Linked DNA regions of Homo sapiens: region 1 is linked to region 2. The links come from fine-mapping of genetic effects on gene expression. A gene starts in region 2. The other region holds a variant in brackets. All regions are shown on one strand. Distances are from middle to middle. Region 1 has its middle 29 kb from the start of SPDYE1. Region 2 holds the start of UBE2D4 (ubiquitin conjugating enzyme E2 D4).

The links. PIP is the estimated chance that this variant, and not a neighbour inherited with it, causes the effect.
Region 1: its variant is the best candidate, but not a certain one, in a credible set for the expression of UBE2D4 in monocytes (Kim-Hellmuth 2017, PIP 0.73).

Annotation. Positions count from the first base shown.
Region 1 is chr7:43,964,638-43,972,965 of GRCh38, forward strand. It overlaps the pseudogene POLR2J4. Among named protein-coding and RNA genes, the nearest start is that of SPDYE1, 29 kb to the right of the region's middle. RefSeq lists an enhancer at 6,243-6,760. The variant C/CT (reference allele first, on the strand shown) is at 4,651.
Region 2 is chr7:43,922,030-43,930,357 of GRCh38, forward strand. It overlaps UBE2D4 (ubiquitin conjugating enzyme E2 D4), which reads left to right and starts at 4,407. Exons shown (of 7, transcript NM_015983.4): 1 at 4,407-4,527. The coding sequence starts at 4,504. It also overlaps a transcript of URGCP not described here. RefSeq lists a silencer at 4,301-4,840.

The DNA.
Region 1 (8,328 bases), 43 kb after region 2:
TTGTAGAGACAGAGTCTCACTTTCTTGCCCAGGCTGGTCTCAAACTCCTTGCCCCAAGTGATCCTCCCACCTTGGCCTCCCAAAGAGCTGGGATTACAGGCATGAGCCACCGCTCCTGGCCAACGGTGTCCTATCTTATCTCACAACCCTATTCCTGGAGAATCTGGCATAGGGAGTTGGAGCTATGGCTCAGGGACACTGACCTTGGAGACTTGAACCCTGGTCTGAGGTCTGCAGGGAAATTTTCAAAGGGAAAATGTCTGAGTACTTGTTTCAGAAACTTCCAGAGGCAGAAAGCAGGAGACCTGTACAACCTGTGAGCTAAGAAGACAGACCTGGCCGGGTTTGGTGGCCCATGCCTGTAATCCTAGCACTTTGGCAGGCTGAGGCGGGTGGATCACTTGAGGTCAGGTGTTCGAGACCAACTTGGCCAACATGGTGAAACCCTGTCTCTACTAAAAATACAAAAATTAGCCGAGCATGGTGGCACACAGTTGTAATCCCAACTAATCAGGAGGTTGAGGCAGGAGGATCACTGGAACCCAGGAGGTGGAGGTTGCAGTGAGCCAAGATTGTGCCGCTGCACTCCAGCCTGGGTGACAGAGCAAGACTCCATCTCAAAAAAAAAAAAAAAAAAAAAAAAAAGACAGAAGACAGAGCTGAGCTGAATGCAGAACTGTGGGGAAAAATAAAGGGGAGGGGCCGGGCGCGGTGGCTCATGCCTGTAATCCCAGTACTTGGGGAGGCCGAGGCAGGTGGATCACCAGGTCAGGAGATCGAGACCATCCTGGCTAACATGGTGAAACCCTGTCTCTACTAAAAATGCAAAACATTAGCCAGGCGCAGTGGCGGGTGCCTGTAGTCCCAGCTACTTGGGAGGCTGAGGCAGGAGAATGGCGTGAACCTGGGAGGCAGAGCCTGCAGTGAGTCGAGATCACGCCATTGCACTCCAGCCTGGGGACAGAGTGAGACTCCATCTCAAAATAAATAAATAAATAAATAAATAAATAAATAAATAAATAAATAAATAATAAATAAAGGGGAGGTGGAGCCCAGCCGGGATGAGAAGGATGCTGGCTAGGTGGGCAGGGGCTGAGGGGACCCTGGAGCTGTGTCTCCTGACCTCTCACCCCTGAGCAGCCCCCCTGCCCTGCCTGCCTGTAGCCAATTCCCAAATGTCAGCCCCCACCCCACCCCTTGAGGCCGGCTGCCCAGCTCCATGCACTTACTCGTCATGCTGCCGGCTCTTGGACTGGTCGGGCTGCAGCCGGAACCAGCCCTCCTCCTGCTGCGCCACCCGCAGTCTCTGGACATCGATCACCACCTGGGGACATAGTGGCAGTTTTCCTGGAGCTGGGAGACTTAGGTCTCCTCCTTGCCAACTACTGTTCTTAGTGGGGAGGGGCCTCTTCCAAGGGTCCCTGAGTGCCAGTGGTGGTGGGGGGAAGTTGCTGGTTCTGGCAGACGGTGGAGGTGGGGGGGTAGTCCCAGGCTTCCTGAGTGTCCCTCTTTGGGGAAGCCAGAAGGAGGTCCCTGAGGATGGGATGGCTGCAATGGAGCCAGGTGCTGGGGGACAGCAGGTGCAGCCTGCCGGGGGAGGAGGGGGGGCGGGGCGGTGGTGCTCACTTTGCCCAGGAAGTCGTTTCGGCTGACAAGGTCCCAGTCCCAGGCCTCCACGCACAGCGCCTCCACGGCCCCCTCCTGCAGCTCAAATTCAAACGTCTCATTCCAGCGTGGGTAGCATGACTTCTTCATGATCTGCCCAGAGGAGGGTGGGAGGGGGTTAGGCTGATGCCACTGGACTCCCCAGGCTGGGCAAAAGGCAGAGCTGCCCTAGACACCTCCCCTGGGTTCCCCACAGCCTCCTCGCCTTGGAGGTTCTGCCACAGCAGAGGTTAAAATGTCCTGTCCAAGCTCCCACCCATTTCTCAGATGGGGAGAACTGAGGCCCAGGGTGGGGAAAAGATGTATCCGAGGCCACACAGCAGAACAGTACTGACTATGAGGATGTGGTGAACAGGGAATACCTCTACACTGCTGGTGGGAATGTGAACTAGTACAACCACTATGGAAAACAGCGGAGATTCCTTAACTAACTAAAAGTAGAACTACCATTTGATTCAGCAATCCCACTACTGGATATCTACCCAGAGGAGAAGTCATTATACAAAAAAGATACCTGCACACATATGTTTTTGTTTTGTTTGTTTTGTTTTGTTTTTGAAACAGTCTTGCTCTGTCGCCCAGGCTGGAGTGCAGTGGCACGATCTCAGCTCACTGCAACCTCCGCCTTCTGGGTTCAAGTGATTCTCCTGCCTCAGCCTCCCAAGTAGCTGGGATTTCAGGGGCCTGCCGCTACGCCCAGCTAATTTTCGTATTTTTAGTAGAGACAGGGTTTCACCAGGTTGGCCAGGCTGCCCTCAAACTCCTGACCTCAGGTGATCCGCCTGCCTTGGCCTCCCAAAGTGCTGGGATTACAGGCGTGAGCCACCGCGCCTGGCCCTTTTATTCTTTTCTTTTTTTTTTTAAACAGGGTCTTGCTCTGTTGCTCAGGCTGGAGTACAGTGATGCAATCATAGCTCACTGCAGCCTCCACCTCCTGGGCTCAAGCAATCCTCCCACGTCAGCCTCCCAAGTAGTTGGCACTATAGGTGTGCCCCACCACACCTGGCTAATTTTTAAATTTTTTTGTAGAGACTGGATCTTGCTGTTGCCCAGGCTGGTCTCGAAATCCGGGCCTCAAGAGATCCTCCCACCTCTGCTTCCCAAAGCACTGGGATTACTGGAGTGAGCCGCTGCACCCTGCCAGTATCCCCTACTTAGAACTCTTTGTGGAAGAACACCAAAGCCCACTCATCTTCGATATTTTAAGCCTCTCATACCTGCCTTTCTTCCCCCTCAAGACTGTCTAATAAAACCCCCCAACATTGAGGCTGGGTGCAGCGGCTCATTCCTATAATCCCAGCACTTTGGGAAGGAGGCTGAGGCAGGAGAATTGCTTGAACCTGGGGAGGCAGAGGTTGCAGTGAGCCAAGAAAACGCCACTGCACTCCAGCCTGGGCGACAGAGCCAGACTGCCTCAAAAAAAAAAAAAACACCAAAAAAAAAAACAGCCCGGGTGCAGTGGCTCACGCCTGTAATCCCAGTACTTTGGGAGGCCGAGGCAGGCAGATCACCTGAGGTCAGGAGTTTGAGACCAGCCTAGCCAACATAGTGAAGTCTCGTCTCTACTAAAACTACAAAAAATTAGCCAGGCGTGGTGGTGCACACCTGTAATCCCAGCTACTAGGGAGGCTGAGGCAGGAGAATTGCTTGAACCCAGAAGGTGGAGGTTGCAGTGAGCTGAGATCGGGCCACTGCACTCCAGCCTGGATGATGGAGCGAGATTGTCTCAAAAACAAAAAACAAAAAAACCCCAAGGTTTTACTGAAATATTGAGAATCTCCCCAGAAAAAATAAGGAGGAAATGTTCTTTCTTCCTCTGCAGCAAATGGACCTTCTTAGGCTGACTTGGAATTGCAGCAGGAGTCTCATTGCCGAGGACAACGGGGGACAAGTCCCCTCACTCTGAGAGAGGCCTGGACATTCCTCTCCCCTGCTAGGACTCACTAGAAGGCCAACCACTGTGGCCCCAGAGGATGGGAGAGGGGAGATTCCTGGAGAGAGGGGAGGGCCAGGGAGACATGCTTCCATGCCTCCCATCTCCGTGGGTGACGATGGGTGCCTGGGAGAAGTGGCCCCGAGGTCCCAGAGCCCGGCCACGTGTGTGAGCGGGTGCACACGTGTGCATGCCTGTCCCCCAGACAGCCTGGTGCCCAGAAAGGATAAGGATGGAAGAAGCAGGTGAGTTGGGGTGGGGCGGGGGGGAATGAATGGCAGGGCCAGAGAGTGAGCGAGTGTGGGGGCGTGGCTGAGGCTCGGCCCAAGCCCAGACATTTTCCATCCATTTCTATTTTCCCAGGACAGAAAATAACTCCCGGGAAGCCAGAGTGAGCAACATGGGCATCATCCGACCCACACCCCTCTGCCCAAGGGAAGTCTTCCTCTTAGACAGGCTGACCCCTCAAGGGTGGGGGGAACACTGGCTCCATAGGGCTGCCTGGCTGGGGGCCACCCTCCTGCCTCACAGGCAGGGAGCAACTTGGGGAGGTGGGTTTGGAGCTGGAAGGGAAGACGCTTCTCACGGACAGAGTGTGACTCAGACCCAGGCCCAGACGGGAGTGCAGCCTGCAGCTAAAAATACCCTGGGGGTTGGGGGGTGGCCCTGTCACAGGTGACTCAGGCCCATGGAACCATCCAAACCACTGTCCCTCCTTGGGGGAACCCTCAATTTGCCCATCGGGAGATTTTCAGCAACTCTTTTCACCCCCCCAGCCCCACGAGGGACCCACTTACACACACTCCCACCAGGCCAAGTTCACACTGGCGTTAAACATAAGGAAGCCGGCCTTAGCACTGGGGGACTGAGGCTGTGTGATCAGAGTTCGGGGTCTCCTCACCCGTACCCCCTACTCCACTCCTCTGTGATGGCTCCAGTTCCTCCATGAGAACATTAGACTGTCCCTTAAGGGACATATCCCCTTGAGTGGAAATCACCCAAGAAGCATCTTCAAGTCCAGAAAACCTCCCCAGACCCTCTCTTTTTTCTTT[C/CT]TTTTTTTTTTTTTTTTTTGAGATGCAGTCTCGCTTGTCACCCAGGCTGGAGTGCAGTGGCGCCATCTCGGCTCACTGCAACCTCTGCCTCCTGGGTTCAAGACTCCTGCCTCAGCCTCCTGAGTAGCTGAGATTACAGGCGCCTGCCACCATGCCCGGCTAATTGTTGTATTTTTAGTAGAGACAGGGTCTCACCATGGTGGTCAGGCTGGTCTTGAACTCCTGGCCTCAGGTGAACCACCTGCCTCGGCCTCCTAAAGTGCTGGGATTACAGGTGTGAGACACTGTGCCTGGCGAGACCCTCTCTTGAGAGCAGGCTTTGATGGGAGGTGGCCAGCTCTGGGACCAGGAGGTAGAGGTGGGGCGAGGGGGGGCTCAGCTTCCTCATTGGGTTTCTCTAGTTGCAGGGGACCCACTGCCCGCCCCCAGGCCCCTGAGTCTCACCTGGCCTCCAGCACAGAGCAGCGTAGCTGGCAGGCCCGGGCCCCTGGGCGCACTTCCAGCCGCAGGTGGATCTCGCCCTGCACCTCCTCATCAGGGTCAACCTCCGTCAGGTGGGCCCACCCGCTGAAACCTGTGGGGTCAGCTCAGCCAGGGACACGGCCCTGAACCCCCATACCCTCCACCCTCAGCCCTACCAGGCACCTTGAGGCACCTCCATAATCTCCTGGGAATCCCCTAGGCACCCGTGAAGCAGGGGCTGGTATCCCCAATGACAGATGGGGAAACTGAGGCTCAGCAGGTGAAGAAACAGCAGTTGGAAGAGCTGGGATTAGAATCTAAGTCAGTGACCTGGGGCCTGTGCCCTCACTATTGTGTCATTTTTGTCGTTGTTGTTTTTAGAGACAGGGTCTCACCCTGTGAGCCAGGTGTGGTGGCGCATGCCTGTAATCCCAGCTCCTCAGGAGGCTGAGGCAGGAGAATTACTTGAACTCAGATCGCACCATTGCACTCCAGACTGGGTGACAGAGCAAGACCCCATCTCAAAAAAAAAAAAAAAAAAAAAAAAAAAAAGATGGAGTCTTGCTATGTTGCTCAGGCTGGTCTCAAACTCCTGACCTCAAGCAATCCTCCCACCTCAGCCTCCCAAGGTGCTGGGATTATGAGCGTGGGCCGCTGTACCCAGCCAGATTCCCCATCTTAAAACGGGAAGAGAGTGGCCCTCCCCTAGGGCTGCTGGGAGGAGGGTCTGAGGCCCAGATGGAGAAGCTACAAGATTGCGCCATTGCACTCCAGACTGGGTGACAGAGCAAGACCCCATCTCAAAAAAAAAAAAAAGATGGAGTCTTGCTATGTTGCTCAGGCTGGTCTCAAACTCCTGACCTCAAGCCATCCTCCCACCTCAGCCTCCTAAGGTGCTGGGATTATAAGTGTGGGCCGCTGTACCCAGCCAGATTCCCCATCTTAAAACAGGAAGAGAGTGGCCCTCCCCTAGGGCTGCTGGGAGGAGGGTCTGAGGCCTGGATGGGGAAGCTACAAGGCACCCGGAGGAATAGCCTCACTGGGGCCACTAGACCCCAGAGACGCTGGCTAAGGCTGCAGGTGGGAAAGGCCTTTGGCCTGGCAGGGGCCAAGAAGCCCCATGAGTCAGCAGAACCTGCCTCCGCCCTGCCCCCATCCCTGGCCCAGCGTCACAGACAGGAGCAGGTGTGTGTGGGGGCAAGCCAGTAAGCGGGACACAAAGGCTCTGATGGCAGAGCCCATAGCATCCAAGAACTGGTTTGAACCCTCAGAGAAGCCCAGAGAAGGCAAGAGCTGCCCAAGGTCACACACAGTGAGGCTGGCACAGGGCTGAACCCTCAAAATCATGTCTGGCAGAGCATGGTGGTTCACACCTGTAATCCTAGCACCTTGGGGAGGCCAAGGCGGGAGGATCTGTCAAAGCCAGGAGTTCAAGACCAGCCTGGGCAACAGAGTGAGACCCCCCATCTCCATTTTTTTTTTTTTTTTTGAGACAGAGTCTTGCTCTGTCACCTAGGCTGGAGTGCAATGGCGCAATCTTGGCTCACTGCAACCTCTGCCTCCCAGGTTCAAGAGATTTTCCTGTCTCAGCCTCCCTAGTAGCTGGGATTACAGGTGAGTGCCACCATGCCCAGGTAATTTTTATATTTTTAGTAGAGACAGGGTTTCACCATGTTGACGAGGCTGGTCTTGAACTCCTAATCTCAAGTGAATTGCCACTGGGATTACAGGTGTGAGCCACCATGCCCGGCCTCCATCTTTGTTTTTCTTTTGGAGATGGAGCTTGCTCTGTCATCCAGGTTGGAGTGCAATGGCGTGATTTTGACTCACTGCAACCTCCGCCTCCTGGATTCAAGCGATTCTCCTGCCACAGCCGCCTGAGTAGCTGGGATTACAGGTGCCCACCACCACGTCCAGCTAATTTTTTGTATTTTTAGTAGAGACAGAGTTTTGCCATGTTGGCCAGGCTGGTCTTGAACTCCTGACCTCAGGTGATCCACCTGCCTCGGCCTCCCAAAGTGCTGGGATTATAGGTGTGAGCCACTGCACCCGGCCTCTATTTTATTTTTTATTTTTATTTTTTATTCATTTATTTATTTATTTTTGAGGTGTAGTCTTGCTCCGTTGCTGAGGCTGGAGTGCAGTGGCGCGATCTCGGCTTACTGCAAGCTCTGCCTCCCGGGTTCACGCCATTCTCCTGCTTCAGCCTGCCAAGTAGCTAGGACTACAGGTGCCTGCCACCAAGCCCAGCTAATTTTTTTGTATTTTTAGTAGAGACGGGGTTTCACCATGTTAGCCAGGATGGTCTCGATCTCCTGACCTCGTGATCCACCCGTCTCGGCCTCCCAAAGTGCTGGGATTACAGGTGTGAGCCACCGTGCCCGGCCTTTTCTTTTTTTAAAAAACTATATAAAAATTGTAAAAACAATAACACAAAACAATGTCTGCATCCCAGAAATAATTGAAAGGGATCTCCAGCCTGGACTGGCTCTAGGCCAACCCTTCAGACTTAGGACACAGTAGTACTAGGGCCCAGATGGAGGAGACCCCATGGGTTACAGAAGGAGCTGGCCTGATTTGGAGAAGGGGTCCCTATGCTTCAGCAATAGAGTGTAAGGAGGCCCCTTCTTCTGCCAGCAGAGGCCTCAGATTCCACCCATAGCAGCCCCTCTTCACCCTAGGGAAGAGGCAGTAACAACCAGGCTTGGGAACATGCTGCAGAACAGAGGCCAGGAGTACAGAACGTGGCCCCGGCTTCTGGGGAGAGTAGAAATGGCTTTCCCTGAGCAGGAGACCAGACGGAGCCTAGAGGGGAGGTCTCTGAGTGGGAGGGAGGCCAGGGACTGGGCAGACCAGTGCGGGAGGGAAGGGAGAACTTACCCTTAGGGTGAGAAGCTATGGTGTCCCTTGTAAGGCAGACCTTTCCGATAACGTCGTCCCGGCTAGAGGAGGGAGATGGAGGCAGAGCTGGGCAGGGCTTCAGTATCTGCCCTCTGGGACCTCCCACCAAGTTCAGGGCCCCCCCGGGGGGAGCAGGGTGGTGGACACCGATGTCATTTCCAGAGTAACCCAACAGAGCTGGACCTGTGGCCCTTCTGTAGGCTGTGGGTTCTGGACCCTCTAGGGGGATGTGATAGGTTTCTCACATGCCCACACATGCCAAGCTCACACTCTCTGGGTGCCCATCTCACAGCTCACACCTGCACGCACACGTGT
Region 2 (8,328 bases):
TTACAGGTGCAGGCCACCATGCCCAGCTAATTTCCGTTTTTGTTTGTTTGTTTGAGAGTGGGTCTCGCACTGTCACCCAGGCTGGAGTGCAGTGGCGCGATCTTGGCTCCTGGCAACCTCCACCTCCCAGGTTCAAGCGATTCTGCCTCAGCCTCCCGAATACCTGGGATTACAGGTGTGCACCATCACACTTGGATAATTTTTGTATTTTTAGTAGAGACAGGGTTTCACCATGTTGGCCAGGCTGGTCTCGAACTCCTGACCTCAGGTGATCCACCTGCCTTGGCCTCCCAAAGTGCTAGGATTACAGGTGTGAGCCACCATACTTGGTATCACTTAACTTTCTGAGGAACTGCTAAACTCTTTTCCAAAAATGACTGCACCATTTTATAGTCGCACCAGAATGTGTGAGGGTTCCAACTTCTCCACATCTTTGTCAACACTTGTTGTCTGTCCCTTTAATTACAGCCATCCTAGAGGGTGTGAAGTGGTATCTCATTATGGCTTTGATTTGCATGTCCCTTATAACTCATGATTATTATTTTCTTGAGACAGGGTCTTGCTCTGTTTCCCAGGCTGGAATGCAGTAGCGTGAATGGGGCTCACAGCAACCTCAACCTCCTAGGCCCAAGCAATCATAGCTGGGACTACAGGCATGCGCCACCATGCTCTACTAATTCTTAAAATTTTTTCAAGTATCTGCTTTTGGTGAAGAAAAAAAATTTTTTTTCTTGTAGAGATGGGGTCTTGCCATGTTGCCCAAGCTGGTCCTGAACTCCTGGATTGGGTGATCCTCCCACCACAGTCACCCAAACTGCTGGGATTATAGATGTAAGCCACCACACCAGGCATTTTTTTTTCTTTCTCTTTCTTTCTTTCTTTCTCTTTCTTTCCGTCTTTCTTTCTTTCTTTCCTTCTCTCTTTCTCTCTCTTTCTCCTCTCTCTCTCTCTTACTTTCTTTCTTTCTTTTAGAAGGAGTCTCGCTCTGTTGCCCAGGCTGCTGGAGTGCAGTGGTACAATCTCGGCTCATTGCAACCTCTGTCTCCCAGGTTCAAGCGATTCTCCTGCTTCAGCCTCCCAACTGGCTGAGATTACAGGCATGCACCACCATGCCAAGCTGATTTTTGTATTTTTAGTAGAGATGGGGTTTCACCATATTGGCCAGGTTGGTCTCAAACTCCTGACCTCATGATCTGCCCTCTTTGGCCTCCCAAAGTGCTGGAATTACAGGTGTGAGCCACTGTGCCCAGCCTTTTTTTTTTTTTTTTTCCCAAAGAGACAGGGTCTTGCTCTGTCTCCTGGGCTGGAGTACAGTGGCTCAATCATAGCTCCCTGCAGCCTCAAATTCCTGGAATCAAGCAATAATCATACCTCAACCTCCCGAATAGCTGTGCCCTCAGATGCACACCACCACATCCAGCTAACTTTTAAATTTTTCTGTAGAATCAGGGGTTCGCTATGTTGCCCAATCTGGTCTCAAACTCCTGGCCTCGAGCAATCCTCCAACCTCAGCTTCCCAAAGTGTTGAGATTACAGGCCTGAGCCACCACACCCAGCCTGATTTTTTTAAAATGTGCTTATTGTCCAGTTGAGTATCTTCTTTGAAGAAATTTCTATTCACATCTTTTGCCCAGTTTTTAATTGGGTTATTTGTCTTTTTTATTGAGTTCTAAATGTTCTTAATATACTCTGCATCTTAGACTGTACTGAGATATTATTATTTCAAACATTTTCTCGCATTCTGTGTGTTGTCTTTTTGTTTTCTAGTTGGTATTGCTTGAAGCACAAAAGTTTTAAACTTTCATGTAGTCAAATTTATCCATTTAAAAATCTTTTGTGTATTATTATTATTTTTTTTTTGAGACACAGTCTCGCTGTTGCCCAGGTTGAAGGGCAGTGGTGCAATCTCAGCTCACTGCAATCTCTGCCTCCTGGGTTCAAACAATTATTGAGCCTGAGCCTCCCAAGTAGCTGGGACTACAGGTGCATGCCACCACACCTGGCTAAATTTTGTATTTTTTGTAGAGATGGGGTCTCACCATGTTGGCCAGGCTGAGCTCAAACTCCTGGCCTCAAGCAATCCACCTGCCTTGACCTCCCAAAGTGCTGCGATTACAGGCATAAGCCACTGCACCTGACCAATTGTGTATTATTCTTGCAACATTTCTGTACATCTAAAATTATTTCAATGTTAAAAATGAAACATTACATATAAGCATGCTAAAAAGTTTAGAAAACTATGCACTAAACTACCAACAGGGAATAGAAACAGAATTTTTCATTTTCTATTATATGTTTTTTTCCTGAATTATACAAATGATGCAAATTCTCTGTAGAAATTTTAGAGATTAACACATTAGTAAACCTACCATCCAAAAGTAATATTTTTGAGATTTGAGACTTCAAAACCACCATATACATTATTAGCACATAAATAACCATTTATATATTCTTACACAAATATATCAACATTTATAAAATCTAGAATCACTTGTTTTATGGGGAGGGAAGGCCATGTCAATAATGTAGGAGGATGGATGGCCCATGGACTAACAAAAATTTCTGTTGTCAATGTTTGACACCAAGGGGAAGTGCTTGACTTGGGCTGTTCAATGGGTGATGCTTGAGCTGGCTTTGGAAGGTGAATGCTCTAGTCAAGGAATGTAGATGCTGTGGTGATGGAAACACTTGATAGTCAGGTGGGCTGGAGGTAGGAAGGAGAAGGTAAAGCTGGAGGATACTTTGAGTTTTTGTTTTTTTGAGACAGGGTCTTGCTTTGTCTCCCAGCCTGGAGTGCAGTGGTGCCATCACAACTCACTGCAACTTTGATCTCCTGGGCTCAAGTAAGCCTCCCAAGTAGCTGGGACTACAGGTGCACACCACCATGCCCAGCTAAGTTTTGTATTTTTTGTAGAGACGGGGTTTCACCATGTTGCCCAGGATGGTCTAGAACTCCTGGACTAAGGGATCCACCCACCTCAACCTCCCAAAGTGCTGGGATTACAGGCATGAGTAACTGTGCCCGGCCGAGGATCCTGGATTTTGAAGGCCCCTGGATGACAGTGAATGTGATGCTGTAGGCCACGGGGCTTCCTTGAAGAGTTCTGGGTAAGGATGCAGTGTGGTAAGCTTTATATTTCAGACAGTTCATGAAGTTGTGTGGAGGACAGATTGGGGGAATGGGAGCGTGAAAGCCAGGGACAAAGCTGGGCAACTATTGAAATGTCTATAATACATTTTATATGCTGACTGAGTACAAACATAGAGGTGACCATGTGTCTTGGCTGGCTGGAGACAATTCTAGATTACAGCGTTGGTCCCAGAGTAATTATATTAACAGCCACTTTCATGCTCAAACATGTCTCAGTCTGAAGATTAAATATCATCTACATACACACACCAACAAAACTTCCACAATTCTTACCTTTACTATGTGAAATGCACTGATATTTTATTCTGTTTTTTTATTTTTATTTTTTATTATTTTTGAGACAGAGTCTCGCTCTGTCACCCAGGCTGGAGTGCAACAGTGTGATCTCAGCTCACTGCAACCTCTGCCTCCTGGGTTCAAGTGATTCTCGTGCCTCAGCCTCTCAAGTAGCTGGGATTACAGGCATACGTCACTACGCCCAGCTAATTTCTGTATTTTTAGTAGAGACGGAGTTTCAGCATGTTGGCCAGGCTGGTCTCGAACTCCTGACCTCAAGTGATCCGCCTGCCTCGGCCTCCCAAAGTGCTGGGATTATAGGCGTGAGCCACCTCGTCTGGCTTTTTTTTTTTTTTTTTCAAAAAAATGTTGGTTGCAACCTATTAAATTGATTTCGTGACACACTAGTTCATAACCCTCAGTTTGAACAACTCTGACCTAGACGCCTGCCAAGTCTTGGGAAAATAGGAAGGAGACAGATAATTAAGTTTGGGAGATGCATAGTCTAAGGCCAGGGTTCTCAATGTTGGCAGTGCAAGATCACGTGAGGTACGACTGAACACGGAGATCTCCAAAACTGCGGAGAGTTTTGCGTGTGAACGTATGCACAGACATCTACATGGAAATGGCTGTAACGCATCCAGCCATAAGGCGTACGAGGGTATATATACTTACAGAGTTAAGAACCACTATTCTCAGGAGTTATATGACAGCCTGGGAAGACGCCCAGGATGTAGGAACAGGGAGCAGGCGAGCGTGTGGCACCTTGAGGGTGCTCCGCGCGTCTCCGTAAAGCCAACGAGCCCCTCCTCTTCGCTGGCCTCTCCGGGGCCTTGCTGACTAGTGGTCGAAGCCACAGGACCAGGTGCGGGTGGCCAGCGTAACCCGGGCAGCCCCGCTGCTTCCCCTCGGCCGCGCCAGGACGCTCGGCACGCGGCGACGACGGCCCCACAGTGCCCCGCGCGCGCAAGCGCAGGCTGCGGCTCCCGGCGTGCAGCTTGGTGGCGGCTGAGCCGGCAGCGGGCCGCCTCAGGCAGCCCCGGCCGGGCCGCCCGGGTCCCCGGCAGCGGGGTAGGATGGCGCTAAAGCGGATCCAGAAGGTACGCACTTTCCCACCCTCCAACTCTTTGGGTGTCCGAAGCGTCGAGGTGTGGGCGGGGCGCCGCTGCCGTGAAGTGAAAGGTGACGGAGGCTCCGCGAGTCGCGGATACACCTGCCTGGGAAGGAGGCAGAACAGCCTCCCGCGCAGCCTGAAAAGCGAACGCAGCCTGAGAAAGGGATTGCGCGAGCGCGGGGCGGGGCCGGGCCGTGGCCACGAGGGCTGCGTCATGCGGGCGGGGCGCCGTGGGGCCACCTGCAGGCTTCTGGACAGCGGGTTCCCCCTGTAGGGTATCCAGAAGGGCTGGGTGGGTATCCAGAAGGGTATCCAGGAAGAAGCTGGGTCCTAAGGGATGAGTAGGAACTCGGCAGGTGGGGAAAAGGGGAAAAGGCTTTCCCTGCAACGGGGAGACTACGAGGCTTGGAGGACTGACAGGGTAGCGGGGAAGCTGAAGGGCAGATGGTGTGGACTTGGGTGGTCCTTAGGAGCAGTGCTGAAGTAACTGGTTTTTATCCTGCAGGTAAGAGGGAGTCCATGAGGGTTTAATGCATTCACTAGAATTTGGAAAACGCACAACAGTAGAAGAAAGAAGTATTTCTAATTCTATCACTTTACTATTTGTTAACATTTTAGCATACCTACCTTCAGTTTTTTTTCTATATTTAAAACAATTATACTGCATTTTGTATTCCACTTATTCACATAATAGTAAATGTAAGCATGTTGTGAAGTAGTATTTATAACTTTTTTTTTTTTTTTTTTTGAGGTCTTGCTCTGTCGCCCAGGCTGGAGTATCGCCCAGGCTGGAGTACAGTGGCACAATCATGGCTCACTGCAGCCTCAACCTTCTAGGTTCAAGTGATCCTCCCTCCTCAGCTTCCTGGGTAGCTGGGACTACATGCCACCATGCCAGCCAATTGTTTATTTTTTGTAGAGACAGTGTCTCGATATGTTGCCCAGGCTGGTCTCATACTCCTGGGCTTAAGCGGTCCTCTTGCCTCTGCCTCCTAAAGTGGCGGGATTACAACGTGAGACACCATGCCCAGTCCTATAACTAATTTTTAACATTAACTTTCCACAAGTACATGACTAGTAACTTATTTAGTCATTACCTGTAGTAGGTAAAAGTATGGACTTGGGTGTCAGACAGACCTGGGTTAGAGAATGTGAGGTCACTTATAGTGGGACCTTGGGCAAGGCACTTTATCATTCCTAGCCTCCCAGTCCTACATGTTTACAGAGTTGTTTTGAGAATTAAATGCTATGAAATGTGTTTAGCACATGCTTGCTGTATACCAAACACTCAATACGAGTTAGCTGCTGTTATTGTTCAAAATTCTTCACTAAGTATTTGCTGTTACGAACTGTGTATTAGTCTGTTTTGTGTTGCTATAAAGGAATATCTGAGGCTGGGTAATTAATAAAGAAAAGAGGTTTATTTGGCTCTCGGTTCTGCAGGCTGTACAAGAAGCATGGTGCCAGCATCTGCTTCTGGTGAGGCCTCAGGAAGCTTACAATCATGGCAGAAAGCAAAGGAGAAGCAGGCGTGTCACCTGGTAAGAGAGGGAGCAAGAGAGATGCCACCTCTTTTAAACACCCAGATCTCACATGAACTAATAGAGTGAGCACTCACTTATTATTGTGGGGGGGCCACCAAGCCATTCATGAGGAATCCGCCCCCACGACCCAGATACCTCCCACTAGGCCCCACCTCCAACACTGGCGATCACATTTCAGCATGAGATTTGGGGGGGACAAATATCCAAACCAGATCAACCATCATTGTACAATGAGCCTTTTCCTTAATTCACATTACTGGGTTTGATTGCCAGAGGTGGAATTACAGGATCTCTGAGAGTATGACTCTTTTTTTTTTTTTTAAATAAATAGCTGTCCAAAAGAGAGATAATTCTGATGAGTTATTCTCTGAAAGGGGTCATCTGTCATCCTAGGACTTTGAAGCAGGTGAATGACATGCTGAGATCTGTGTTCTAAAAAGATCTTTCTGGCAGCAGTGTGGCCGGAAGTGGGACAGAGGGAGACTAGAGGCTGTTGTGAAGGTTCAGTAGAGGCTTTGTCCAAATTAATGACCATGGAATGGATGCTAGGCCAGAGCAGTGCCTGGACCACATTGCAGAAGTGGAATTGACAGGACTCGAGGAGAGGATGTGGTGAAAGTGAAACAAGGAGGTGTACAAAATGGGTCACTTAGTGGATGGTGGTGTCAGTGTCTAGGATGGGGAATCAGAAGTTTTGAAGGCAGGGAGGAGGGTAGGAGAGATTAAGGAATAAAGGTTTGAGCCTACATATTCAAATGTGTAGGCTGATAAGATTTATAAAAGGGAGCGTTTGGAAAAACAAGTTTGGGCCTTGAGCATGAAATGTCAACTATAGATCCAAGGTAATTGAAATCATAAGGCCAGGGAGAACTTTTCCTTGATAAGAATCAAGGACAGGCTGGGTACAGTGGCTCATGCCTATATCCCAGCACTCTGGGAGGCCGAGGCAGGTGGATTGCTTGAGTCCAGGAGTTGGAGACCAACTGGGCAACACAGCAAAATTCCATCTCTACTAAAAATAAAAAAATGGCCGGGTGAGGTGGCTCATGCCTGTAATCACAGCATTTTGGGAGGCCAAGGCGGGTGTATCATTTAAGGTCAGGAGTTTGAGACCAGCCTGGCCAACTTACTGAAACCTCTTCTGTAATAAAAATACAAAAAAATTAGCTGGGCATGGTGGTGCATGCCTGTAATCCCAGCTACTTGGGAGGCTGAGGCAGGAGAATTGCTTGAACCCAGGAGTGGAGGTTGCAGTGAGCTGAGATTGTGCCACTGCACTCCAGCCTGGGTGACAGAGCGAGACTCTGTCTTAAAAAAAAAAAAAAAAAGTAAATAAAAATTAAAAAAAAAATTAGCCAAGCGTGGTGACACACACCTGTAATCCCAGCTACTTAGGAGGCTAAGGTGGGAGAATCACCTGAGCCCAGGAGGTCAAGGCTGCAGTGAGCCTCACCACTGCACTCCAGCCTGGGCAACCAGAGTGAGACCCTGTCTTAAAACAAAAGCAAAACAAGAATCAAGGTCAGGGCTGGCTTCATGTGTGTGTGACGCATTCACTCTCACAGGGCCCCAGGCTTGGATGGGCTCTGCCTTTGGTTTTATGCTCTGCTGTCACTATCAGGAAATTCTTAATAATTATCGAACTTGAGACCCTACATTTTCACATTCACAAGGCCCTGCAAATTCTGTAGCAATTCCTGGGGAAAAACAACAGAATTGTAGGAAATACAACTTTAAAAGTGTGTCAAGCCTGCCGTGGTGAGATGGCACCATTGGGCCACCACTAGTTAGGATGTCTTGGCTGCAAGTGACAGAGGCTGAGCTGCCCTTGTGCATGGAATTGGAGGTCCTGTGGCAGGACTTTGGGAGCAACTCAGTCCCCCTCTCCTGGTCTGTTCCTGTGTCACTCTGGGCTGAATGGCTCTGGAACACACAGCCTGCTGGACATCTGGGAGTAATAGAGACAACTGCTTCCAGAAGAACTGATAAGAATATTCTCAGAAAGCCCAGCAGATCTTTTTTTCCCTTTGCCTTGTTATGAATTATGTCTCATGCTCATTCCGAAACCAATGAGTGGCAAGGAGTCTGGTTACTCTTAGACCTGGAGCTGACAGTGAGTTGACCAGAACTGAACAGCAGTCCTTCAGAAAGGAGGAAGGCGGATGGGTGCTGAGCAGGTAGCCAGCAGTATGCAAGCCTGAGCCAGGTGTGTGGTGTCTACTAGCTGCCCCCTTAGTTTCCAA